Homo sapiens: one gene and its partners. The gene in region 2 interacts genetically with the main gene of each other region. Each region holds a gene or a part of one and is shown on either strand. Other genes may lie near its edges. The genes, in order: AMHR2, CIT, CYP4F12, PDCD7, TCOF1, SRFBP1 and ACVR1.

The links.
Region 1: changes in CIT (region 2) and AMHR2 together harm fitness more than expected from each alone (negative genetic interaction), as found in Homo sapiens cells (one large-scale study listed by BioGRID).
Region 3: changes in CIT (region 2) and CYP4F12 together harm fitness more than expected from each alone (negative genetic interaction), as found in Homo sapiens cells (one large-scale study listed by BioGRID).
Region 4: changes in CIT (region 2) and PDCD7 together harm fitness less than expected from each alone (positive genetic interaction), as found in Homo sapiens cells (one large-scale study listed by BioGRID).
Region 5: changes in CIT (region 2) and TCOF1 together harm fitness more than expected from each alone (negative genetic interaction), as found in Homo sapiens cells (one large-scale study listed by BioGRID).
Region 6: changes in CIT (region 2) and SRFBP1 together harm fitness more than expected from each alone (negative genetic interaction), as found in Homo sapiens cells (one large-scale study listed by BioGRID).
Region 7: changes in CIT (region 2) and ACVR1 together harm fitness more than expected from each alone (negative genetic interaction), as found in Homo sapiens cells (one large-scale study listed by BioGRID).

Annotation. Positions count from the first base shown.
Region 1 is NC_000012.12:53,422,597-53,426,654, reverse strand, and holds the start of AMHR2 (anti-Muellerian hormone type-2 receptor isoform 1 precursor), read right to left. Parts: upstream 2,801-4,058; 5' UTR 2,721-2,800; coding exon 2,672-2,720; intron 2,368-2,671; coding exon 2,185-2,367; intron 1,947-2,184; coding exon 1,755-1,946; intron 1,570-1,754; exon of another isoform or gene 1,499-1,569; coding exon of another isoform or gene 1,491-1,498; coding exon 1,413-1,490; intron 1,201-1,412; coding exon 1,082-1,200; intron 970-1,081; coding exon of another isoform or gene 967-969; coding exon 736-966; intron 1-735. UniProt on the Homo sapiens protein: On ligand binding, forms a receptor complex consisting of two type II and two type I transmembrane serine/threonine kinases.
Region 2 is NC_000012.12:119,685,321-119,688,820, forward strand, and holds the end of CIT (citron Rho-interacting kinase), read right to left. Parts: intron 2,936-3,500; coding exon 2,912-2,935; 3' UTR 471-2,911; downstream 1-470. UniProt on the Homo sapiens protein: Plays a role in cytokinesis. Required for KIF14 localization to the central spindle and midbody. Putative RHO/RAC effector that binds to the GTP-bound forms of RHO and RAC1. It probably binds p21 with a tighter specificity in vivo.
Region 3 is NC_000019.10:15,686,587-15,690,086, forward strand, and holds part of CYP4F12 (cytochrome P450 4F12), read left to right. Parts: intron 1-3,500. UniProt on the Homo sapiens protein: A cytochrome P450 monooxygenase involved in the metabolism of endogenous polyunsaturated fatty acids (PUFAs).
Region 4 is NC_000015.10:65,120,344-65,123,808, forward strand, and holds part of PDCD7 (programmed cell death protein 7), read right to left. Parts: intron 1-3,465. UniProt on the Homo sapiens protein: Promotes apoptosis when overexpressed.
Region 5 is NC_000005.10:150,367,697-150,371,196, reverse strand, and holds part of TCOF1 (treacle protein), read right to left. Parts: intron 3,354-3,500; coding exon 3,280-3,353; intron 2,482-3,279; coding exon 2,295-2,481; intron 1,669-2,294; coding exon 1,595-1,668; intron 1-1,594.
Region 6 is NC_000005.10:122,017,475-122,020,974, forward strand, and holds part of SRFBP1 (serum response factor-binding protein 1), read left to right. Parts: intron 1-1,785; coding exon 1,786-1,867; intron 1,868-2,613; coding exon 2,614-3,328; intron 3,329-3,500. UniProt on the Homo sapiens protein: May be involved in regulating transcriptional activation of cardiac genes during the aging process. May play a role in biosynthesis and/or processing of SLC2A4 in adipose cells.
Region 7 is NC_000002.12:157,764,831-157,768,330, forward strand, and holds part of ACVR1 (activin receptor type-1 precursor), read right to left. Parts: intron 1,367-3,500; coding exon 1,091-1,366; intron 1-1,090. UniProt on the Homo sapiens protein: Bone morphogenetic protein (BMP) type I receptor that is involved in a wide variety of biological processes, including bone, heart, cartilage, nervous, and reproductive system development and regulation.

The DNA of each region.
Region 1 (4,058 bases), about 66 Mb from region 2:
ATAAAAAAGATAAATAAAAATTATTATTTTGAGACAGGGTCTTACTCTGTCACCTAGGCTGGAGTGCAGTGGCACAATCTTGGCTCACTGCCAGCCTTGACCTCCCCAGGCTCAGGTGCTCCTTCCACTTCAGCCTCCCAAGTAGCTGGGACCACAGGCATGTGCCATCACACCCAGCCAATTTTTTGTTTTTTGTAGAGGTGGGGTTTCACGGTGTTGCCCAGGCTGTTCTTGAATTCCTGGGTTCAAGTGATCCTCACACCTTGGCCTCCCAAAGTGCTGGGATTACAGGCGTCTGCCACCGTGCCCAGCCTGTTACTATTTTTTCACATGGTCTCGCTCTGTCTCCCAGGCTGGAGTGCAGTGGGATGCTCACGGCTCACTGCAGCCTCAACCTCCTAAGCTCAAGCGATCTTTCCACCTCAGCCTCCTGAGTAGCTGGGACTACAGGTGTGCACTGCCATGCTGAGCTAATTTTTGTAATTTTGCAGTGATGGGGTTTCCTCATATTGCCTAGGCTGGTCTTGAGCTCCTGGGCTTAAGCGATCCACCCACCTTGGCCTCCCAAAGTCCTGGGATTACAGGTGTGGGCCACCTCGCCTGGCCATTTTTAATGTTTTAGAAAAGAGAAAATCGAAAGCAGAAGCAATCAACAGGGCCCAGCTGCCATGTAGCCCCCACCTCTATACATACACACAGGCACACACACACACATATACACTCCTTGGTGCTCACCTTGGGATGCAGTTCCAGTACCAGCAGGGGCCCAGAGAGCAGGCGGCCAGGACCCCCCCGGCTGGCAGTGATAAATCGGACAATGTGGTCGTGCTGTAGGCCTGGAAGTTCGTACAATGCTCTCTCAGCTTGGAACTGAGCCACAGACCTCGGTGGGAAGGCCTTGATGGCAACCAGTTTTCCTTGCAGCTGCCCGGCCCAAACCACTGCATGACCTCCTTCCCGGATTACCTGCTGGGGACACTGTGCTGAGTGTGGGCCTCTGAGCTATAACAGGGCCAGGATTCCTCCCCAGCACAACCTCCAGGAGTGCCCAGAGGAGCCCTTCTCTCCCTCCCTGGGGCACCTGGGAGAAACACAGCTCAGGCAGCTCCTGCAGCTCCACACTCCAGTCCCTGCCTGAGTCTGGCCTTGGCTCTGGCACTGGCTCACCTCGCACTCTGTAGTTCTTTCGCTGTAGCAGGGCTGGAACAGACAAGAGCCTTAGGGTCAGGGTGCAAATGCATAGGGACAGGAAAAGGGACTTCGTGGAAAGGGAGCTTTGTGAGAGGTCATGGGAGTCCGGGAATCAGGCTATAGAGATCCCAAGACCATGGGGTCAGGGGTGCCTGGAGAGGGGTCAGAGCTTTTGGGGCAATGTCTTGGGGTCACAAGGGAGGGATGGGGTGGATTAGTACCCAAGATGATGCTGCCCAGCAGCAGCAGGAGGAGGAGGAACAGCCCCAGCAGCACCAGTGCCATCCAGATGGACTCACCTGGACATCAAGGCAAGAATGCAGGCTGGAGAGCACTGACCCAAACCTGCTCTCTGCTCTTCCCCTCCTGAGAGCTTGCGTCTCAACCCACCCCCACCCTGGTCACAAGACCCCTTATCTCCCAGTCACCAGGGCAACCAACTTCCCAAGGCCAGGAGGAGGAAAGCGTGGGGCGGGAGTAGGGTGAGAACTGGCCCTGGTTCCACCTCTCATCCTAACCTGGGCCCCAGCCCCCATCAGGCTTCAGTACCCTTGGGTGGCTACCTGGGGCAGCCTGGGGACCCTGGGAGCCAGGAGTCCCAGGGCTCCCTGGAGGAGGCAGATGGCTGTAATTGGCATTGCAGAAGTCAGTGCCACAGGAGCAGGTGAAGAGAGTGGAGCCAGGGCTGGGGTGGGCTCGGGGACTTGGGTCACAGTGGAGGGACTCACAGCCTGGCTCATCACTGTCTCGGCATCCTGATGGGATGGGATTAGGGGAAGAGGAGAGAAAGGGGGGGCAAGGAAGAAAGCACAATGGGGTGTGGAAACAGAGGGTAAATCCCTTCTCTATCAGAGGCGTCCCTTCCAGCTCTCATGGGCTTTTCTTTCCCACCAGATGTTCTATTTCTCCCCTTCCCCCTTGGTTGCCACCCACACCCCAGGATGTGTCTGTCTCCCACCCTAGCCATCACCTGCCATATACTTTGCCATTCACCTTGCATTTCCACCTGTGCCCGGTCTTGGGTCAGGTTCCAGATCCCAAAGCAGCAGCGGCTGTAGAGGCAGCGGATAGCTCTGGGGAGCTCTGTGCCTGTATCTAGCAGCTCTCCCAGTGTCTTTGTGCTTCCCCGCACTCCAGGGGCCTCAAAGAACACACAGGTTCGCCTGTTTGGGGGTGCTGAGGCCCAGGGTGGGGAAAGGAAAAGATTCAAGGTGGGAGTGAATGCAGAGGCAAAAAACTGGCCAAAAGAATAGACAAAACATGTTCCACATCCCAGCGTCAGTATGGTAAAGCCACAGGAGGAAGCAGGGTCAGCAGAGGCCTGGAACCTGAGCCCTGCCATGGGGACACATGGCTCTATCCTTCACCCTTACTCACCCAGCCCACTCACCACTCTTCCAAAGGGGTGGCTCTTGCTTCAAGCGCCCCTTTCCCTTGCTGGATGGATGGAGAGACCCTTCCCCTCCCTGTAGACACTTACCTTCCACAGCTGTGGGAAGTAATGCCCAAAGCCCCAAAGACCCTAGCATCTTGCTGGAGGATGGCAGCAGCAGAAGGAGAAGAGCATAAGCCAGCACAGCTGCCCCTGGCCAAATCTTTCTTCAGATACAGGGCATCCTGGGGCTTCTGATCCCTCAGTCCCCAACTCCGCCCCCCTCATCCTATCCCAGCCTCTGTGGGGGAGAAGGCTGCTGTGGGGGAGAGGGTGGGTGTGGGGAAAGCAGGGAAAGAAAGGGAGGAGCAGAGAACCAATCTCATATCCTCTTCTCTTCTGCAACCTCCTCTTTGCTCTGCATAGTGAGAGGAGGGGAACTTGGAGGCCCAGCTGAGAACCCAGTGATGCCTAATTTCAAATCTTTGCCCTTCCCTGACCTTGGAAGAAGATGCTGGACTCTGTTGACTCTTCTCAGGAGGAAACCAATGTGAGGTCAAATGCTTAGAGCCATTCAGCTCTGCCCAAGATCCTTTCTAGCCTAAGATCTCTTTATATTCAGGGTTCATATCTGCAACTGCTTGGGCAGAGGAAGGCCTCACAGCCCATATTAGAGGTTACCTTGTTTTCCAACTTAAGAATCAGAAAGTATACAAAACTTACCTGAATTTTTAAAAAACACATTGAAAACAGTAACAATGGTAAATTTTGCTATGTGGATTTTTTTTTTTTTTTTTTTGAGACGGAGTCTCGCTCTTCTCCCCCAGGCTGGAGTGCAGTGGCACGATCGCAGCTCACTGCAACCTCCGCCTCCTGGGTTCAAGCTATTCTCCTGCCTCAGCCTCCTGAGTAGCTGGGATTACAGGCGCCTGCCACCACACCTGGCTAATTTTTGTATTTTTAGTAGAGACGGGGTTTCACCATGTCAGCCAGGCTAGTCTCGAACTCCTTACCTCAGGTGATTTGCCCGCCTCGGCCTCCCAAAGTGCTGGGATTATAGGCGTGAGCCACCATGCCTAGCCGTGGATTTTACTTAAAAAAAAAAAACACATTGGTTCACAGGCTGAACAAATACCCATTATTAAGGAGGTAACAAATTTCTTATCAAGCACCTACTATGTGCTGGGGCACAGCTAGGGCTATGCATTTTACAATCATCTCATCTAATTCTCCCCTGAAATATTTATTATTATTATTTTATTTATTTATTTTTTGAGACCGAGTGTCGCTCTGTCACCAGGCTAGAGTGCAGTGGTGCCATCTTGGCTCACTGCAACCTCTGACTCCCTGGTTCAAGCGATTCTCCTGCCTCAGCCTCCCGAGTAGCTGGGATTACAGGCACGCACCACCATGTCCAGCTAATTTTTGTATTTTTAGTAGAGACAGGGTTTCACCATGTTGGCCAGGATAGTCTCGATCTCGTGACCTCGTGATC
Region 2 (3,500 bases):
CCTTTGATTTGAATTCTTCTCTACAAAGAAATCTACATTATTAAATTGTAGTTGGCCTTTTAATAGATGAAAGATATCTTGAGCTGACCTGTTCCTGGTTAGCTGATTATAGAACTGGGTAATCCATTCTTCAGTAATCCTTTCCAAATGTCCTGTGTGACTGCTTGAAGAGCTTTCCAGCTCTGCAGTCCTATAAAATGACCTTAATAGCCAGTTCATGGTTCACTGGAAGTATTGACCAAATTTCCACAGTCAAACTCTTGGCAGAGAATGTCACCAATCGCTTAATTCCAGGATAGCAGTGTGCCCTAACCACCACGTGGCTTCCTCTATCCCACTCCAGAGGAAAACCCTCCCCACAACGTAAAGAAGGTCCCATCCATGATAATACACCTACACTGACACGCTGGTGATAGTTTTTCTTTCACAGTCTCTCAAAAAAAGAAGAGGTCATTGCACTAAAGCACACATTAGTTTAGATCATTGCTTTATTTCACTAATTGTTCAACAACAAAGTTCATTCCTCTCAAGGTGGATCTTGAATCATTCCTTGTGTTCTCTTCCTCGTTCTGAATAAAAAAGGTAATGAAGAAAAAGCCTGTACTTTTGGAGACCTAGAATCTTGATTGATGCTAATAAGCTTTTGACAGCAATTTCGTGTTACGGTATATCCTGCTGGCATCTTGGTGGTCACACGGAGCTCCCCACCCTCCAGTGAAGATGGCTGTCCACAACTACCACCATTGAAACCAAAAGTAAGTGTTGAAAAATGCACCTTTTACAATAAAAAAGTAGAAACCAATTCAATTTCCTCTTTTTTTTTTTACGAATATAAAGTTTCTTGTAAATATGTACAGTCTTTTGAGCTAGTTCTATATAGCAGAAAGCAGTTCACAGATGAGACACACAATATACATTTTCAGGGCTCAAGAAGCCCATTTCTCATGGAGATCCTAAATGAAATGCCAAGACTGAAAGACCCATTTTCAGTGACCTTTCCAAATACTGTGGACCAAGAGACAAAACTTCAGCAAACATTCAATCAAATCTGCCCTGGGGACGGGAGGGGAGGGAGTACGACCCCACAGACTCCAAGCAACACATAAAACGCCACAGCAGGACATTTGCCAAAGGAGCTACCACATGGAGGTTTGTAGGCGTTTCAAACAAGAAAGCACTTAGGTTAAGACACGAGCAGGAAGGAGCTGGGATGCAGGCCAGGTTGCAATCTGGAAAGGGATCTGAACTGTGGACACAGTTGAAAACACGGTCATGTTCACCTGCTGCGGTGGAAACGGGTCTACCTTTGAGCCTACCTAGGAGGTGCCTGGGTTGTTGAGGCGGGCCTAAGAGTCGTGGAGGACCCAAAGCAACAGATGCCTTGTGGGAGATTAAAGGCAGAAATAAGGCCGCGAGTTAGCTTGCCAACTGCAAAGCCTCTAGGTTGGTTCTGTACCAGTTGCCAGGAATTTCGTACTCTAATAGGAGGGTCCGCAGACCCAGTGGGAGCCGCACTGCACCTAAGGACTTCCCAACCCTGGCGGAGCTGGAAGAGTTGAGCTGCGGCTGCTTTCTCAAACTTCCTGGTCTTAGGTCTAGCCCTAGGGAAAGGCTCATTTGGAAAGTCACAGTTTCGTGGGGTAGAACCGCGCTGGATTGGGTGTGAACAGAGTCATCCTCTGCAGGCAGGGAAGTGTGAAGTTTGGAGGGGACACTGAGTGGGAGGTGGTGGTTTGCTGAAATCCTTCTCTGGTCGTAAGGCTTGAGCGTTTTGTTTTTTGTTTGTTCAGTGCTACAGACTGCAGCTTGTGGTGGCCAGTTAGTCGGCAAGTCGTCAGAGGGTCTCGATTTGGCAGGAGCTATGGGATGGTATTAATACATTGGCAGAGCAACCCAAGGGGGCAGCACATGCAGTGAACTGCCATGCAGAACTCCCGACGGGCCTCTTCCCCATCCCAGAGTGGGGAACAACACGCCGTCACAGACAAGGAAGTGGGTGCCCCCGTCCCCTCCCCGACCCCGAGACCCAGGAGTGCTGGGCTCCGAGCAAGTCTATTGCATGCTTTCCTGGCCAAAGCTATATGGAAAGCGGGAACAGCAGGCTGGGGAGATGACGCTGGGGGGTGGGGAAGGAAAGCGTCTCGAGGTCCCTTGGCCCCAAGTCACTGCCTCCGAGCTGAGGCCCCGATGACCTCCATACATTCTCAGCTGGTGGGAGGGGAAGTCGTCAAGGCCATAAAAGGCAATGAAAACAGTAAACATTTGGCTACGATGTCACCCTGGGGAAAGCAGGGCCATCTATGAGAATGAACAGGAACAAGGATGAACCTACTTGGCTGCGGGAGGTTGGCCAACTGACCGGGACTGTTCTACACTATGCCTCGGTGGCAAAGACCTGATGATGTGGTCGAGCTAAAAATGACTACAACAGGAAATACGTCGCTATTCAAATCTATTAAGAATTCTGTTGTCTTAAAAAAAAAAAAAAAAAAAGGAAAGAAACAAAGAGAAAAAAAAAAGAAAAACCAACCAATCCTAGGATCTTAAAGTAGCTAATTAGGATTCTAACCATGTTGTAGTTAGCATCCCGGTTGGTTTCCTTTGATGAACTAACTGGTACAGGCTAGAGCTAGGTACAAAAGTTTGTGAATGCTTTGAAAGAGTAACAAAGTGCAAAGAGATGACTGCAGGGAGGTGCCCAGGGCAGGCACCGGGCGCTGACAGCTCCGAAGAGCCTCAGCCACCTGCCCCTCCTGGAGACAGGGGTGTCCGTGCCGAGGTGGGTCTGGGCCCCGCTGAGCCAGAGGGTGGCTGAGCACGTGGGCGCTTGGGTCCCCATCAGCAGAGTTCCATAGTGTGTTTGGTGTTTTCCTGCAGATCAAGATGAGGAGTTGGTTTTTCTGGCTGAGATTTATACTGAAGACTGGTCCCAGACCTAGGAGTGAAATAAGGAGGAGTGTTAGCCATCCGAGGCCAGAAGTTGCTGTGCTCACCTTGCATGATGCAAATGGGAATCTGCAGCCCCTGGGCTATCCCCTTCAGCAGCTAGCAGTGAGTGCTTGGCAGGGCAGCACCCGCTCCAGAGCCTGGGGAAGCCAGGGAGTGAAACTCACTGGAAAATCCCAAAGCCGTGTGTGTACCTGCGATGCTGTAAGCATGTGATACACACACATGCACATACACAGTTTCATCGGTCAATTGGGAGGGATAAGAAGCCATATGGATGGTGTTTCCTTCTTTCTTTACCAGCAGGTGAACTGCAGGTGGCATCAGAAGGAGAATGCCACCCAGAAAATCAGCCCCAAATGGCAGAAAGGTGGCTCCTTGACCTGCTTAGCCTGCTAAGGAGGCACCAAGCACTTGAGCCATGCCCTGCCTGGGGGAGCCCCTGGTCTTCCACACCCATCCCTCTCCTCGATCGCAAACCTAAAATTACACAGATCATTCATGCACATGATTTAAACATTTCCAAAAGTTCAAAGTTCTTCTGGAAGGCAACC
Region 3 (3,500 bases), on a different chromosome or scaffold from region 2:
TAATAACTATGGTAGTGAAAGCAGAGTCTGGCTGTGGAAAATATGGGAAAATGGTAATGGCTTCCATTTTAACCCAAAGGCAATGGGAAGCCATAACAAGTGGTTGAGCAGGGGAGGGGCAGGTCATATCTGGGCACCAGAAAGATCTTTTCAGAGCTACTGTGGAGAGAGGACCAGCTGTAGAATGAAGTCCCAGTGAAGACATTCTGGGACCTGAGCCAGGGCAGGGGCTGGGGATGGAGAGGAGGCAATGGACTGGACATGTGTTTTGGAGGCCGTGTCCTCCCGTCCAAGCCTTTGCTCAGCACAGCAGTCCTAAAAGGTGGCAACACTTTTTATGCTTTTAAAAACCAAGATATCAAGTAATACTGTGCACTTTGTAAACAAAAAAAAGTGTCTAAAACATTTATAAAAATGAGCTTTCCTCATGCCTGTAATCCCAGCACTTTGGAAGGCCGAGGCGGGCGGATCACGAGGTCAGGAGATCGAGACCATCCTGGCTAACACGGTGAAACCCCGTCTCTACTAAAAGTATAAAAAATTAGCCGGGCGTGATGGCAGGTGCCTGTAGTCCCAGCTACTCTGGAGGCTGAGGCAGGAGAATGGCGTGAACCCGGGTGGCGGAGCTTGCAGTGAGCTGAGATGGCACCATTGCACTCCAGCCTGGGCAACAGAGTGAGACTCTTTCTCAAAAAAAAAAAAAAAAGAGCTTCCTTCTTAACTGTCACCCTAGTAGTTTCTACCATCAATGGTTTTGTGTGTCCCTCCAGAAGATGGCTATCTTGATGCCCACTTTATAAGAACACAGACTTCTTCTATACAAATAAGAGTGTATAAAATAGACACAGTACTTTTTCCCAAGATGGTGGGTTGGAGGCAATGTCAGTGTGCCTCTCCCATGTGGAAGGACAGAATAGTGTGTAGAGATTCACAGTGTAAGCTTTCTTTTCCCAAGAAACAACACAGGGACTTAACAGGAAAACCAGAAGAATCCACAAACCCTTCAAAAGAAGCTACAGGCTGCATTCTACTCTGTGAGACAGGTGAAAAACTGTGAATCCTCAGAGTAAGAGGGGGAGAGACTGCTTCCTAGGTACACATCTTCACTGGGGAATCTGAAAATCCAGACCACAGGAGAAGGCCTTAACTCTATCCAGGGCTTGAACTGATTTAGGGAGTGGTAAGAAATATAAAAGTAGAAGCAGCAGCAGGAAGTCCCTTGCAGGCATTCACAATCTCCAGCATGGACTGAGGGAAGCCATTCCTTATTGTATCTCACAGGGGACCTTGGGGAAGTCAGACAACTAGCTCAGGTGAGGTCACAGGTTGAACGAAATGCCCAAATGAATTTCTTGATATAACCTCGAGTGGGGATGAACTCCCTTGACCAGAACCCGGGAGGCAAGCAGGAAGTGTGCTGCAGACAGGAGTTCAGAAGCTGGGTGCCTGGCCTTGGACAGGGACAAAAAAGGACATGGCCTGAAAGCATTGCTATTTCTGTGGGAAAAGCTTATGGCCTGGGGCAGGGCTGAGTTCTGTGCACAGACTGCCTGGATCTAAATCCAGTGCTATGAGTGGAACACTGCATGTGTGAGACCCACCTTGTGCCAACTGCATGGGAGCTAGATGAGGCTTACTGCCACCTGCTACTCTCCACTCCCTTGTCAAACTCTTCTGTGAGGCAGAGGCAGTTATACTCACCTCTGGATCATTACCCCAGTGACCTAAGAACCACCCTCTGACTCTCACAGGGCAAAACAAACAAACAAAAAAACAGTTGCAAAAAAAAAAAAATACCTAGGAATATACTTAACCAAGGAGGTTAAAGCTCTCTACAAGGAGAACTACAAAACAGTGCTGGACAAAACCATAGATGACACAAACCAATGAAAACACATCCCATGTTCATGGATTGGAAGAATCAATATTGTGAAAATGATCATAGTGCAAAGCAATCTACAGATTTAACGCAATGCCTATGAAAATACCTTCATCATTTTTCACACAACTGGGAAAAGCAATTCTAAAATTCATATGGAACCAAAACAGAGCCTGTGTAGTCAAAGCAATACCAAGCAAAAAGAAAAAATTTGGAGGCATCACATTACCGGACTTCAAATTACATTACAAGGCTACAATTACCAAAACAGCATGGTACTGGTATAAAAGTAGGCATTTAGATGAATGGAACAGAAAGGAGGACCCAGAAATAAAGCCAAATACTTACAGCCAACTGATCTTTGACAAAGCATACAAAAACATAAATTGGGGAAAGACACCCTATTCAATAAATGGTGCTGGGAAAACTGGACAGTCACATGTAGAAAAATGAAACTGCATCCCCATCTCTCACCTTGTACAAAAATCAAAGGCTTAAATCTAAGACAGAAACCATAACAATTTTATAAGATAACCTTGGAAAAACTCTTTTGGACATTGGCCTAGGCAAAGAATTCGTGACCAAGACCACAAAAGCAAATGCAACAAAACCAAAAATAAATCAGTGGAACTTAATTAAACTAAAAAGCTTCTGCACAACAAAATAATAATAATAATAATAGCCGACTTAACAGACAACCTACAGAGTGGGGGAAAATATTTGCAAACTATGCATCTGACAAAGGGCTAGTATCCAGAATCTACAAGGAACTCAAACAACTCAGCAAGGAAAAAAAACAAACAAACAATTAGTTCCATCAAAAAGTGGGCAAAGGGCATGAACAGATAATTCTCAAAAGAAGATACACAAACAGCCACGAAACATATGAAAAAATGCTCAACATCACTAATCATCAGGGATATGCAAATTAAAACCACAATGAGATACCATCTTGTTTCTACAAGAATGGCCATAATTAAAAAGTCAAAAAACAATAGATGTATGTTGTGGATGTATTGAAAAGTGAATGCTCATACACTGCTATGAAAATTAACATAACCTCTGTGGAAAACGATAAGGATATTCCTTAGCGAACTAAAAGTAAATCTACCATTCCATCCAGCAATCTCACTACTAGGTATCCACCCAAAGGAAAAGTGATTATATGAAAAAGACACATGCACATGCATGCTTATAGTAGCACAATTCACAATTGTAAAGGTACGGAACCAACCTAACTGCCCATTGACCAATGAGTGGATAAAGAAAATGTGGCATATATACACAATGGAATACTACTCAGTCATAAAAAGGAATGAAATAATGTCTTTTGCCGCAACTTGGATGGAGCTGGAGGCCATTATTCTAAGTGAAGTAACTCAAGAATAGAAAACCAAATACCATATATTTTCACCTATAAGTGGGAGCTAAGCTGTGAGGACACAAATACATACAGAGTGATATAATGAGCTTTGGAGACTCGGAGAGCAAGGTTGGGAGCCGGGTAAGGGAGAAAAGACTGCATATTGGGGACAGTATACACTGCATGGGTGATGGGTGCACTAAAACCTCAGAATTCACCACTATAGAAATCATCCATGTAACCAAACCACTTATATCC
Region 4 (3,465 bases), on a different chromosome or scaffold from region 2:
GGGTATCCCTGTGTTTCTCAAGCTGGTCTTAAACTCCTGGTCAAGCAATCCCCCTGCCTTGGCCTCCCTAAGTGCTGGGATTACAGGCATGAGCCACTGTGCCTGGCCCTACCTACTAATTTGTAAATTTTTTGTATGAGGTCTCACGAGGTCAGGAGATTGAGAACATCCTGGCTAACACGGTGAAACCCCGTCTCTACTAAAAATACAAAAAATTAGCCAGGCATGGTGGCAGGTACCTGTAGTCCCAGCTACTCGGGAGGCTGAGACAGGAGAATGGCGTGAACCTGGGAGGTGGAGCTTGCAGTGAGCGGAGATCACACCACTGCACTCCAGCCTGGGCAACAGAGTGAGACTCCGTCTCCAAAAAAAAAGACCAAAACTTTTTTGTATGAGGTCTTGCTATGTTGCCCAGGCTAATCTCTAACTCCTGGCCTCAAGCAATCCTACCAGCTTGGCTTCCCAAAGTGAGCCACTGCATCCAGCCCAAATGGCCTTTTACACACGTTTTCTTATCCCAAAATTTGTGTTATAATGAGGAAGTTTAAAAGTCCTAGCTATAGTATGTATCGGTTAAAATTTAGAAATTTTACCCAATCTTTTAAGGCTCAATTTGATGTTTCTGAGTATTCAATTACTCTGACCCTACCCTGACTTTCTCAACTCCTCCCTCTGGATCATCCACACCACTTAACCTCTGACTTTCTTTCTTTTTTTTTTTTTTTTTTTGAGATGGAGTTTCATTCTTGTTGCCCAGGCTGGAGGGCAATGGTGCGATCTCAGCTCACTGCAAACTCCACGCATCCCGGGTTCAAGCGATTCTCCTGACTCAGCCTCCTGAGTAGCTGGGATTACAGGCATGCACCAACACACCCGGCTAATTTTTGTATTTTTAGTAGATGTTTCTCCATGTTGGTCAGGCTGGTCTCGAACTCCTGACCTCAGGTGATCCACCCACCTTGGCCTCCCAAAGTGCTGGGATTACAGGCGTGAACCACCATACCTGGCTTCGACTTTGTTTATTTCTAATGGTCTTGATCCTCCACTTGAAACAGTGAGCTCACTAAAGGGAGGAACTTGTCTTAACTTCATTGTTTGTGAAATTCCCTTAGCATCAACTCCCAGATCTAATTAATAAACAATTCTTCCTCTGACTGAGTGTGAATTTTGGGAGTGCACACTTGGATGGTGAGGAAGATACACTTAAAACAACCACACTGACCTTGCAGTCTGCTGCTGACAGTAGGCTGACCAACTGTTTTGGTTTGCCTGCATGTAGCACTGAAAGCCCCAAGTCCCAGTAAAACTGGGATGGTTATTATCCTGATTTAACTATGAGGTCAGCTAACAGTATAGCCAACATATCTAAAGCCACAGTGGAGAAAATAGTCAGGTTATTAGGTGATATCAAAGAATTACTGCTAATTTTTTTGGTGTGACAATGGTATCATAGTTGATGATGAGTGTTTATGTATTCTATTTTTGTGCATGTGTGAAATGTTTCATAAAGTTTCATAAGAAAAAAAGATTTTAACTTAATGAATATTTGAGTGGACTGCAATTGTGCACTCACTACCATAATGGCCCTGTAATACAAAAGCTTCCAGGTGAATCAATGTAGAGTGATGTGGATGTGATCTATCCTGTCAGTCCTTGAAGATTTTAAAGGAAAATATGTTACCCAAGCATTTTAGCAATACCAGATACAGGGCCAAGCGTGGTGGCTCACACCTGTAAACCTAGCACTTTGGGAGACTGAGGCAGGCAGGTTGCCTGAGCTCAGGAGTTCAAGACCAGCCTGGCCAACATGGTGAAACCCCATATCCACTAAAAATACAAAAAATTAGCCGAGCATGGTGGCGTGCGCCTGTAGTTCCAACTACTCAGGAGGCTAAGCCAGGAGAATCGCTTGAACCCAGGAGGTGGAGGCTGCAGTGAGCCAAGATCATGCCACTGCACTCTGGCTTGGGTGACAGAGCAAGACTCTTATCTCCAAAAAAATAAATTTAAAAAAAAAGAATACCAGATACAAGAAAGAAAAAAAAAATCCTAATCCCATTACCATAATCAACCATTTTATACTTTCTCACATTCTCTTCAGGTCTTTTTGTCCATGTATTAGCAACTTCATATAGTTCAACGTTACATGTATGTAATTTCCACTTCTCCCTGTTGATTCTGTACGTTCTTCTCCAATCTTCATAATTATTTAATGGCTGTATCCTATTTCATCAAATCAATACACTAGAATATACTTATCAAGTTCCCTACTCCTGGACACCTAAGCTATTCCAAATGTCCTGTTATTATATTGTGATACAATGAATATTCTTGGGCATGTTACTTTTTTCCTTCCTAGGGATTTCTATCAGAAAAATTCTTGGCCGGGCAGGGTGGCTCCTGTAATTCCAACACTTTGGGAGGCTGAGACGGGTGGATCACGAGGTCAGGAGTTTGAGACCAGCCTGGCCAACATGGTGAAACCCTGTCTCTACTAAAAATACAAAAATTAGCCGGGCGTGGTGGCAGGTGCCTGTAATCCCAGCTACTCAGGAGGCTGAGGCAGGAGAATCGCTTGAAACCAGAAAGCGGGGCTTACAGTGAGCCGAGATCGCACCACGGCACTCCAGCCTGGGCAACAAGAGTGAAACTCTGTCTCAAAAAAAAAAAAAGAAAGAAAAATTCTCAAAAATGGAAATGTTTGTGAATACTTTCAAGACTAACAAACTGTGTTCTAAACTGCTTCCTAAAAAAGCTATATATTTGCTCAGTTACCAAACACTTGACACAGAGAAGGTAATTAATAGATACTTCTTCAATGAATGAATGATTTTCAACAAGGTTTTTTTGTTTGTTTTGTTTTGAGACGGAGTCTCGCTCTGTCACCAGGCTGGAGTACAGTGGCGCGATCTCACCTCACTGTAACCTCTGATTCCTGGGTTCAAGCGATTCTCCTGCCTCAGCCTCCCGAGTAGCTGGGATTACAGGCATGTGCCACCATTCCCAGCTAATTTCTGTATTTTTAGTAGAGACAGTGTTTCACCATGTTGGCCAGGATAATCTTGATCTCCTGACCTCATGATCCTCCCACCTCGGCCTCCCAAAGTGCTGGGATTACAGGCATGAGCCACCATGCCCGGCCCTTCAACAGGGTTTTAACAATTTATGCTGCAACTTGTGTTATACAATAGTGCCAGCTTTGAGCACTAAATTTTCAGTTTGGGCTGATAAATGGCATAAATAATGGTTTCTCAAGGTTAGTAGTTCTGTTTCTTGTAAAGTTGTAATTTGGAGGTAGGATTCTTTCCTCCTTCAACCACTACAGCTAAGTGGTTGTGGAACTCACTCTCAAGGCTAACATTTCTCTAGATGATTTTCTCCTAACTGCTTTGCTTCTACAGGTTTCCATTCACTCATTCTCAACTACAGAAACACTACAACTCAAATTTATCTTCTACTAAGTTG
Region 5 (3,500 bases), on a different chromosome or scaffold from region 2:
CAGTAAAGTGAGAAGTTCCCTGGGCACCAGATCAGTTCATCCCTGACTTGTGCTGGTTTTCCCTTGAAAACATCTTTCCAACTGTGGACACCTTGGTCTCCCAGCCCCCAGCCTCTTATGCCAGTATCAGTATTACTCCAATAGTCTCCTACATGGTCTTACTGCTTTTATTCTGCACTGCCCTCCAACCCAGGCTGCAGCCAGCAATCTTATTAAATGCAAATCAGGCCATCTCTCCTTGCTGGCATGGCTTCTCACAGCCCCTAGAATAAAACCCAAATTCCTTATGGTGGTCCTCAAGGTCAGACAGAAGATCTGGCCCCTGTCTACCTAGGACTTCATCTTGTGTCACTTTCCCCATAATTTATTTGTTTTTTTAAAAAATAACATCTTGTAGAGACAGGGTTTCACTATGTTGCTCAGGCTGGGTTCAAACTTCTGGCCTCAAATGATCCTCCTGCCTTGGCCTCCCAGAGTGCTGCACTTACAGGTGCGAGCCACCGTGCCTGGTTTCTCCCTCTCATTTAAAGATCAAGGTTTTGGCCAGGCGTGGCGGCTCATGCCTGTAATCCCAGCACTTTGGGAGGCCAAGGCACATGGACCACTTGAGGTCAGGAGTTCGAGACTAGCCTGGCCAACATGGTGAAACCCTGTCTCCACAAAAAATACAAAAATTAGCCAGGCGTGGTGGCGTGCACCTGTAATCCCAGCTACTTGGGAGGCTGAGGCACGACAATCGCTTGAACCCGGGAGGTGGAAGTTGCAGCTAGCCAAGATCGCGCTACTGCACTCCAGCTTGGGTGACACAGTGAGACTGTCTTAAAAAAAGATCAATGTTCTTTAAAAGCACCAAACTCTCTTTGCCGCCTTCTCTGCACATGCCATTCCTTCTGCTTACGCCTACTCATCAACGTCAGGTTCCTGCCCTGCGTGGCCCTCTACATTTCCACTTCATAGCAGCCATCACCAATTAAATATCTGAGGGACGCTCCCTTGCCCCATGGCAGCAGGAACTCTGCCTGTCCTGCTCATCACTATATTCCCCAGGTCTGCCACTTAGTAGGTACACAATAAAAAGTAACCTGTGGAGACCTTTTCCAGGTCAAAGTTCACAAACCCAAGAGTCCTGCCCAACTCTAGCCAAGTGTCTAGGCCTGGCATTCACCAGTTGGCCCAGAACCCTCTCAGCAGCCGCAGCCCTAGCCAGACCACGACAGCCACACTGTTGCCTCTGGGCCCTGTTCTTGCCCCATTTCCTGTCTGGAATGCCCTGCCTCCTCCACATCCCTTCCCAGTGAAGCCCACTGTGCTTTGAGGCCCTACTCCAGGGCACCTCTCCCAGGAAGGCTTGTCTAGTCTCACAGGCAGGAGGGTGTCCCTCTCCTGCCCCCAGGGCTGATCTCACACTCAGAGTGCAGCAAGCAGCACCAGACTCCTCTCCCTGCCCCTCTCCGGCTGCAGCCTTTCCAGCTCCTGGTCACCCTACCACAGTTGCTGAACTCATCTGGGCCCACTGGTGTCTGAAGCCCCAGACAGGTTCCTGGAAGGGTTAGAGGCTGGGAGAGGGCAACTCCTAGGGATGGGTGGCAATTACCTCCACGTCTGTCTCATCACTGGAGCTGGAGGTGTCCTCGCTGGAGCTGTCGGCCTGGCCCGCTGACACCATCCCTGAGGATCGGACACGGAGGGGACTGAGGGACTCCCTTTCCAGCCTCACCTGCCCCTCCCCAGCACCTCCCCACAAACCAGCTGCTCATCAAAGCCAGGTGCTGAGCGCTCACCCCTCGTGTGCCTCACATGCACTGAGCTGTGAAGCCCCCTTCTGAGGTGGGTACCATCACCATCCCTATGTTCCCACACATCTCTGAGGCCCTGGGAAGGGCTGTGAGGGGACCCAACAAATATGCACCAGCACCTGACAGTCTACAGAACCTCCATCCACCATCATATCCACTGATGCAGGCCAGACAGATGTCTACTCTACATAGGAAACAGAGGCAAATCAGGCCTTTCAGTTTAGTCTCTGAGCTGCCAGTTGTCCCTGTAACTCACCAGGGAGTCATAAAGCAGAAAATGCTCCAACCACCAGGTGGGCTGTTCAGCCTGAGGCCAGGTCCCTGTAAGCTGACCCTCCCTCGTCTAGGTGATGAGAAAAGTCCTAAGATGCAGGAACCTGGCTGTCCTGGAGACAAACTTTTGATTCCAGAAATGTCCCAGAACTTAAAGCAATGCCTAGGCCTGCCTCACCAGCCCAAGTTCTGGGGACTAGGTTCCTAGAGGTGGGGACTTCTTACCAGGCTTGGCAGCAGCTCCAAAGGCCGGGACGCTGCCCTCCTCCTCAGTTTCTGAGACCAACGTAGTATTTGCTGAGGGCTCTGCTGACTTCCTGGGAGACTTCCCAGAAAGAAGGTTGGCCACCGTCTTCCCAGTGGCAGGGTGTGGCATGGAATTCCCAGTCTTGCCAGCTTTCTCTGTCTCTGCCTACAGAGAACAAGAGTGACAGACACATCTGGTATGGCATGGTGAACTAAGAGCACAGGCCACTTGCATCTGAACCCAATCTTACCACTTCTTAGCTGTGTGAGTTTGGGTAAACTACCCCTTCAATCTGTTTCCCAATCTTTAAAGTGAGGTTAAAAACAGCACCTCCTCTCACCAGAGGTGTTGAGAAAACAGAATCCCAGTTCTTGGGACATGGTAGTTATTTACTAAGTGGTAAGTAGCAGTTTGTTGTTGATCTTATCATTACTTCATAATTACTTTGAGACATTGTTGCTAATGCTCCAGGCAATCGCAGAGGCACAATTCTTTATACATGTATGTATCTAACTCTGCTTTCTGGATTATTAGAAAATGACACCTTGTTTTTTGAGCAGTTTCCAGTTTGGAAAATGCTTTTAGAGTTTCAGAACCACAGATGTCTTGATCACTACGGTGCCTCCACACCTAGCACAGTGCCTGGAACATAACAGGTATTAGTCAAGATCTGTTGAGTGAACGGGTGAACGCAGGCATGAAAGAGGAAAGAAATCGCCTACCCCAGGTGTAGAATGTGCCCAGTGGCCCACTGCAGCAGGCATCATCCTTATCTTTATAGAAAAGTAAACTGAGGCCCAGAGAGGTGAAGGGACTAAGATCCCACAACTGGTGACACAGGTTGAGCTCTGAATCCAGGTGGGGCAATTACTCACAACCCTATCCTTCTCTGACATGTAAGACTGTCCCCTACCAGGCACCTTAAATCCCATAGGCAATAGCTTGGAAGGCAGTCCCACTCACCTTGGCTTTTTCTTTCATGCTTGATGGCAAGTCCGCCCCCAGGACTGAGGAGTTGGTAGATGCTAGTCTTGGGGCTGCAAGAAACAAACATCTGCTAAAGGAGCCAGATGAGCTTTTCTCATCTATGAATGGCAAACAGGTTTCATCTCACCTAACAATTCTATTGGTATTGGCTGCCTGGTGCTGGCATGAGGATCTGAGGCTGAGCCCAGACTTGCAGG
Region 6 (3,500 bases), on a different chromosome or scaffold from region 2:
CTGGGCTTAAGACCACCCTGATCCACTGTGATTCCACATAATTTAATCTGCAAAGACTTTGTTTCCAAATAAGTTCACATTCTGAGTTTCCAGGTGGATGTGAATTTTGAGGGGACGCGATTCAACCTAGTACACAAGGTAATTAAATAGCAGATGGTCCTGGCACAGGATTTGCACCAGGTGTAATTTAAATAGATTATTCTTTGAGTGACATTACTCACATAAATCCTACAAACAGAATAGCTTGCATACTGCCATCATCTTGTTTTTATTTTGGTATTCGTACATTTATAATACTGGGTTGGAAATGTCTTATATTTGACTGTTCACAATGAAGGGTAAATTTAGGATAAAGACATTTGAAACTGGTTGTTTTACTTTCACACACTAGTGAAATTTATTCACTTGCTTTATTAAATGTGTATTGGGTGCCTACTATTATTACCAGTCACTATTCTAGGCACTGAATCTACAGCAATGAGGCAAACAAAGTCTCTGCTTTGCAGATATGAAAACATCTACACTGCCATGCAGTGGTAAGTGATGTGAAGTAAATAGTGATGGGAAGTGTTGTGCTAGTTGAGATGACATTTAAGCAGAGACCTGAATACAGTGAGATGATCAGCCGTGTATATATTTGGGAGTAGAGTATTCCAGGTAAAGAAGAGATTGCAATGGTATGGGCTAAGCATCAGAAAGCAATAAAGCTTAAAGAAGAACAGATATGGAAATAGCATGATTTGATTACATTTTTAAAAATCACCGTGGCTGTTGTGTGGAAAATTGACTGTTGAGAGAGCAAGTTGCAAAGGAGAGTGACCAGGCATAAGTTTAATTATGTTGGTCCAGGTGAGAGGTGTTGGTGATTTAGTCAAAGGTAGTAAGAATAGAAATGGTGAGAAGCGACTGGTTCTGGATATATTTTACATTTGGAACCACAGGGTGTATTGTGAGTTTTGAGGGAAAGACAAATAGTGGGAAAGAATCCTTAGAGTTTTAGGCCTGAGCAACCAGAACAATGGAAATTACATACAATAAGATGGAAAAGCTACAGGAGAAGCAGATTTGTGAGGAAAAATCAAAGAATTCTGTTTTGACAATGTCAAATAGATGTCAGGTTAGGTGGTTTGATGTATCAGCTTAGAGCTCAGGTTGGAGCTGGAGGTCGAAATTTAGATGTTGTCAGCCTTCATACGGCATTTCAAGTCATTAGCCGGCATTATGATTTTTCCAAATTTATAAATATATTGAATACTGTATATAATGTTCCCATTCAGTCTAGGCCCTGAGAACGTGTCAGTGATAGTAGACATTTAAAATAGAAATATAGAGCGTTAGATAATTTCTAGGTCTCTGTTAAATGGAACTTCAAGTATTACAGTAGTCTCACCCAGTTTAGCACTAATATGTTATTTGATTCTTTGATATTAATTTAGTCTTCTTAATTAGATTGTTCAAGCTCTTTGATAGTAAAAACTATGTTCTTTTTTTGATGTTACACATGGTGCTTATCACAATTCTGAGAATATTAAGTATCGTATCCAAAGAATATTTATTAATGATTAAGTGATAATTTTAGTTGTTCAAAGGCAGTAATATTTTTGTCAGGATGATCTTTGTCTTTAGCATGGATTGATTATACAGATATCTTATCTAAGGAGAATATTAACTAGTTCTATTCTCCAACTCTAATTTTAAAGACTATGATAGATTTTATTTTATTCACTTTCAATAGTGTCATTTTTATTTCATTCCCATACGTTTATTATATTTTTAAATTTGCAGCCAGATTCTACTGCAACTGAAAGAGCAATTGCCAGACTAGCAGTACATCCTCTTCTGAAGAAAAAGATAGATGTGCTAAAAGGTATGAATTAAATGACTTTTAAGCCATGTACTTAATGTATTTGTAGACTTTGGATAATGGCTATTCACTTATTTTAACTCTTGAGGTTCTATTATAAATATAAGTTTCTTTCAAATATTTACCAGTGTGGAAGGTGTCTGAAAATACAGAAAGTGTGATCTCTGAAGAAAAACCAAATCTGTATTGTTTAGTAAATTCTAATATGTGAACGTATAATACGTAATATATATCTTTTTATATATAATATATACAAGATAAAGTTGAATAGTTTTTTTAAAATATTGACATAACTCATTAGTTTTGGTTTCGCCACTTAGGAACATAATTTTATATATGTTTATTATAAAATATATCTATAAAATGAAATTTTTTTGTCACATGATACTGAATTTTATGTCTGAAAGCACAGTTTATAATAATGCATTATTATTATATAAATTAAAGTTGCCATTCCCTTTTATTTGTATTCTGTGATGTTTTTACTGTTCTTCATAACTCCAAGACATGAAGAAAACATTTTCTTTTCATTTTCACAATTTAAAATGAATACGTCTGAGCATATCTTATGTTTGGTTTTTAAGAAGTCGAAAGATTTCTTTGTGAATTCAGACCGAGTATATGTATTTAATATCAATTCCAACTGCCCTCTTAAATCTTTTCAAATAATTTTTTAAAATACTGTCCTAAAACAGTCATGTTTTATATGTTTCAGTGCTAAAATGAGTGATGCACTGTTTCTCTTGCAGCTGCTGTACAAGCCTTTAAAGAAGCAAGACAAAATGTTGCTGAAGTTGAGTCATCAAAGAATGCTTCAGAGGACAATCATTCTGAGAATACTTTGTATTCAAATGATAATGGAAGTAATTTACAGCGTGAAGCAACTGTCATCAGTGAGCAAAAAGTCAAAGAAACCAAAATATTGGCGAAGAAACCAATACATAATTCAAAGGAAAAAATAGCAAAGATGGAACATGGACCTAAAGCAGTGACTATTGCAAATTCTCCATCAAAGCCTTCAGAAAAGGATTCTGTAGTTTCCCTTGAGTCCCAGAAGACACCTGCTGACCCAAAACTGAAAACTCTAAGTCAAACCAAAAAAAACAAAGGATCTGATAGCTCACTCTCTGGTAACAGTGATGGCGGAGAAGAATTTTGTGAAGAGGAGAAGGAATATTTTGATGATAGCACAGAAGAAAGGTTTTACAAGCAGTCTTCCATGTCTGAAGATAGTGATAGCGGTGACGACTTCTTCATTGGGAAAGTCAGACGGACACGAAAGAAGGAAAGTAGTTGTCATTCTTCAGTTAAGGAACAAAAACCACTAGAAAAAGTGTTTCTTAAAGAAGATACAGGTGAAACTCATGGGGATACAAGAAATGACAAAATCAAGCCAAGTACAGAAACCAGAAAGTTAGAATCAGTGTTTTTCCACTCTTTATCTGGATCTAAAAGCTCTAGAAGGTAAGATTCTTTTTCTATTCTGAAATAATCATTAGTTCTTTTTTAAAAAGCTATAAATGTCTACTTGTCCATACATGAAGAGACTATAATTCTAGTTTGTACAACCCATCCTGTTTTTAGACATGGCCCTCTCCAAGGTTGTAGTGGGGTATTAGGTACAGATACACATATG
Region 7 (3,500 bases), on a different chromosome or scaffold from region 2:
CCTAAAATCTTTCGTCTCCTACTTGGGAAACATTGTAATTTCTCAATGTAAAAGCAAAGACTTTAAAGGGATTCAAAGGAAATAAATTTTCCTAACATGTCAAATCCCTTATGTTTAAAAACAAACAAAAATAAACTTTGTTATTTACATAACTAAAGCTATTTTTGTCTAAACCTTTATCAGGCTAACAATAATTGCAATAATATAAATATCATATAAACCATGTTTAATCAAGTAGAGGGCCCTGAATTCTCATTAGCACAATTATTTAGCCAATATTCTAGGAATCCAGGAAGAACATGGTTTTATATAAAATGCCACTATAAATGAAAATACTCTTATTTATAATGCAACTAAAGCTACACTGAGTACTACTCTAACACCATAAGAATGAGCTATCCTAACAGGGAAAAGAGTGAATCAGTTCGGGGATTATTTTCCTATTTCTTAACTTGATTCTTTTGCCTTGGTTACAGAATGATTTTAGAGACCACTTTTAAGATAAACTAATTCTATAGAGTATTTATTGTGCACCTACTTTATGTGAAGGTTAGTGAAACCAAAATGCAACAGTACTGGTTACTTCTGAGGTGGGGTGTGGCAGGGACTGACTGAATGAGCCTGAGGTAACTGTCAAGAGTAATGGGAAACTCTGTATCTCGACAGGGATTTGGGTTTTACAACATTTGTCAAAACTCTTAAGATTTGTATATCTCACAGTATATAAATTTTACCTGAAAAAAAGAAAAAGCAAATAATGCATTCTTGTCAATGATATACTAGTGTACATGCTGAAATCATCAGAAGAAAGAATTCCTTTGTCTGCAATTTACTTTCAACTCTATCAAAGGTTGATATGGACTGATGGATGGGGAGATGAATAGATGAATAAATACATAATAATGCTTAAGGATAGTAAAATGTTAATGTGAGAATCTATGTGGTGGGTATAAAGGTGTTCATTGTAAATGTTCAACTTTTCTGCATGTTTGAAATTTTGCATAACATGTTGTGGGGGAGAGATGCAACTCACCTAACCATTGAAACAAAAATAAAACTGGTGAGGAAAAAAATATTTTTAGAAATTTACCCAAATCTGCTATGCAACACTGTCCATTCTTCTTAACCAGAATATTTTTGCTCTTTAAATCTCGATGGGCAATGGCTGGTTTCCCTTGGGTCCCAAATATCTCTATGTGCAAATGTGCAAGACCACTAGCTATGGACAGCACTATTCGAAGGCAGCTAACTGTATCCAGAGTAGTAAGCTGAAGATAGTCGTACAACGATCCCATTTCATGATAATGTGTAATTAACCACAGCTGGGTACTGGAGTGTCTTGATGTCATGTCTGAAGCAATGAAACCTGGAGAGAGCAAGAAAAAAATTAATATACATGAGGATTCCACATTATAACTTAAAGTATTTAGAAATAGCGACCTACACAGTAAATGTCATCTGTAACAAAAAGTAATTAAACTGACCAATTGCCCTAAGAGGAGGTTTACAGAAGCATCAACAGAGAAAAATAATAGCATTTATTCCTTAAAAGGGCACTGCTAATAGGAAAATTTCATATTCATTTCATTATAAGTAATACTTTAAAAGATATTTTACATTCCTTAAGTTTCAGATAGCAATAATATCTTTGTGCTCACCCATAATGATAGTGCCAAGCCCTTCAGCATGTTGATATTTTAGGAACAGACCATTCATCAACCATCCTAAAAGAACATCAAATCTAAAACCTGAGTACTGTATTCTAGTCCTGACTCTGCCTGTGATTTACTTGTCTAATACTGGGCAACTCAGTTAGGCTCCTTAGCCTATATCTGCTCAGATGTAAAATAAAGGGGGCAAGTTTACATTAAATGATTGACTGATTCACGAAATAAAAAAAGAAACCAACCAAATATATGAGTATTTATGATGCTATCTGTCAGTCACACACAGAAAAACCAAGATGATAGTGTTTGCTGGCTAAAGAAGACAGATGTAAAAACGAAAACACTACAATAAAATACGAAAAGTACTATAATATATATCTTCAAAGGGCAACATGAGCCCAGAGCAGGAAATTATAGTAATTCAGACTAGGTGTTACAATAGGCTTCCATTAGGAAGTGGCAACTCAACTGGTCTTGAAGTAAAGTGAGTGACTGACAAATGTGGATGAAGAGGTTGGAGAAGATTTTTCTTTTTCTTTTTCTTTTTTTTTGAGACGAAGTTTCCCTCTTGTTGCCCAGGCTGGAGTGCAATGGCGCGATCTCGGTTCACTGCAACCACCGCCTCCTGGGTTCAAGTGATTCTCCTGCCTCAGCCTCCCGAGTAGCTGGGATTACAGGGGCCCACCATCACGCCGGGCTAATTTTTTATATTTTAAGTAGAGATGAGGTTTCCCCACGTTGGCCACGCTGGTCTCAAACTCCTGACCTTCAGGTGATCCACCTGCCTTGGCCTCCCAAAGTGCTGGGATTACAAGCGTGAGACATCGCGATCAGCCCGGAAGAGATTTTTCTAGACATCTGGAGGGAACTTTTGAGCATGCAGAAGACTGTCTGGAAGTTAGGGGCACTTCCTATCTTATGAAATAAATTGTGACGTGTGCTTGCCTTTTCTGCTACAGAGGTGCCTTTCTAGGATTATTCTCACATATATGAACCACGCTGGTAGACAGTGAAGTTTGGGACTTAAAAAGAGGTGAGAAAAAAAATTTTTTAAGACGGATATGGCTTGAGGAAGAATTAAATGACTTATGAAAATGTAAGAGAAAATACATTAAAATGCTTTATACTTGCATAGTACTTTATATAAAATTTATGTCACTTTCACATATATTTTCTCATGAGATTTTTCCCAACAAGCTGGTAAGAAAGACATCATTATGCTCATTTTACAGATAATAAAGTTGGTGCTGGGAGATGCCAAGGATCACACAGCTATTTAAGTTGCTATCAACTCTGAATTTAGTGCTAGCTGTCCTGATACCTTGCATAGGAAGGCTCTGTGAGCCAAGAAAGGTCCCCTATTTGATCATCATCATCATCGGCAACCACAACAGAGGCAGCTAATAATTATTGAGTACTACATGCCTGGAACTTTATATGCAATCCTCCAAAAACCACATGAAGTAAGTAGATCGCATAATTGATATTAGGTTCCTGTAGGTCTGATTCTAGAACCCAGACTCTTACTGACTATGCCATACTGTCCCCAAACAAACTGATTTCTACTCAGAGAAAAAATAATTTCACATTTTCACCTATGGGACATATGCAAAGCAAACTGAATAATATTTTAGCACCTTCACCCTCTACTTCTTTCTCTCTCTTCCTCTAAGCCTATTCCCATGGCCAGCCCTGAGTCTCCCACTCCTTCCCTGCTCCCCAGTCTGCTTTTCCCCTCGATGCTGCTTCTCTTGGAGCCCTTAGCTGGCCACAATATGCATCAAAATGTGTTCTTGGACATTAGTTATTCTTAATAAAGAAAATGTTTCTGCT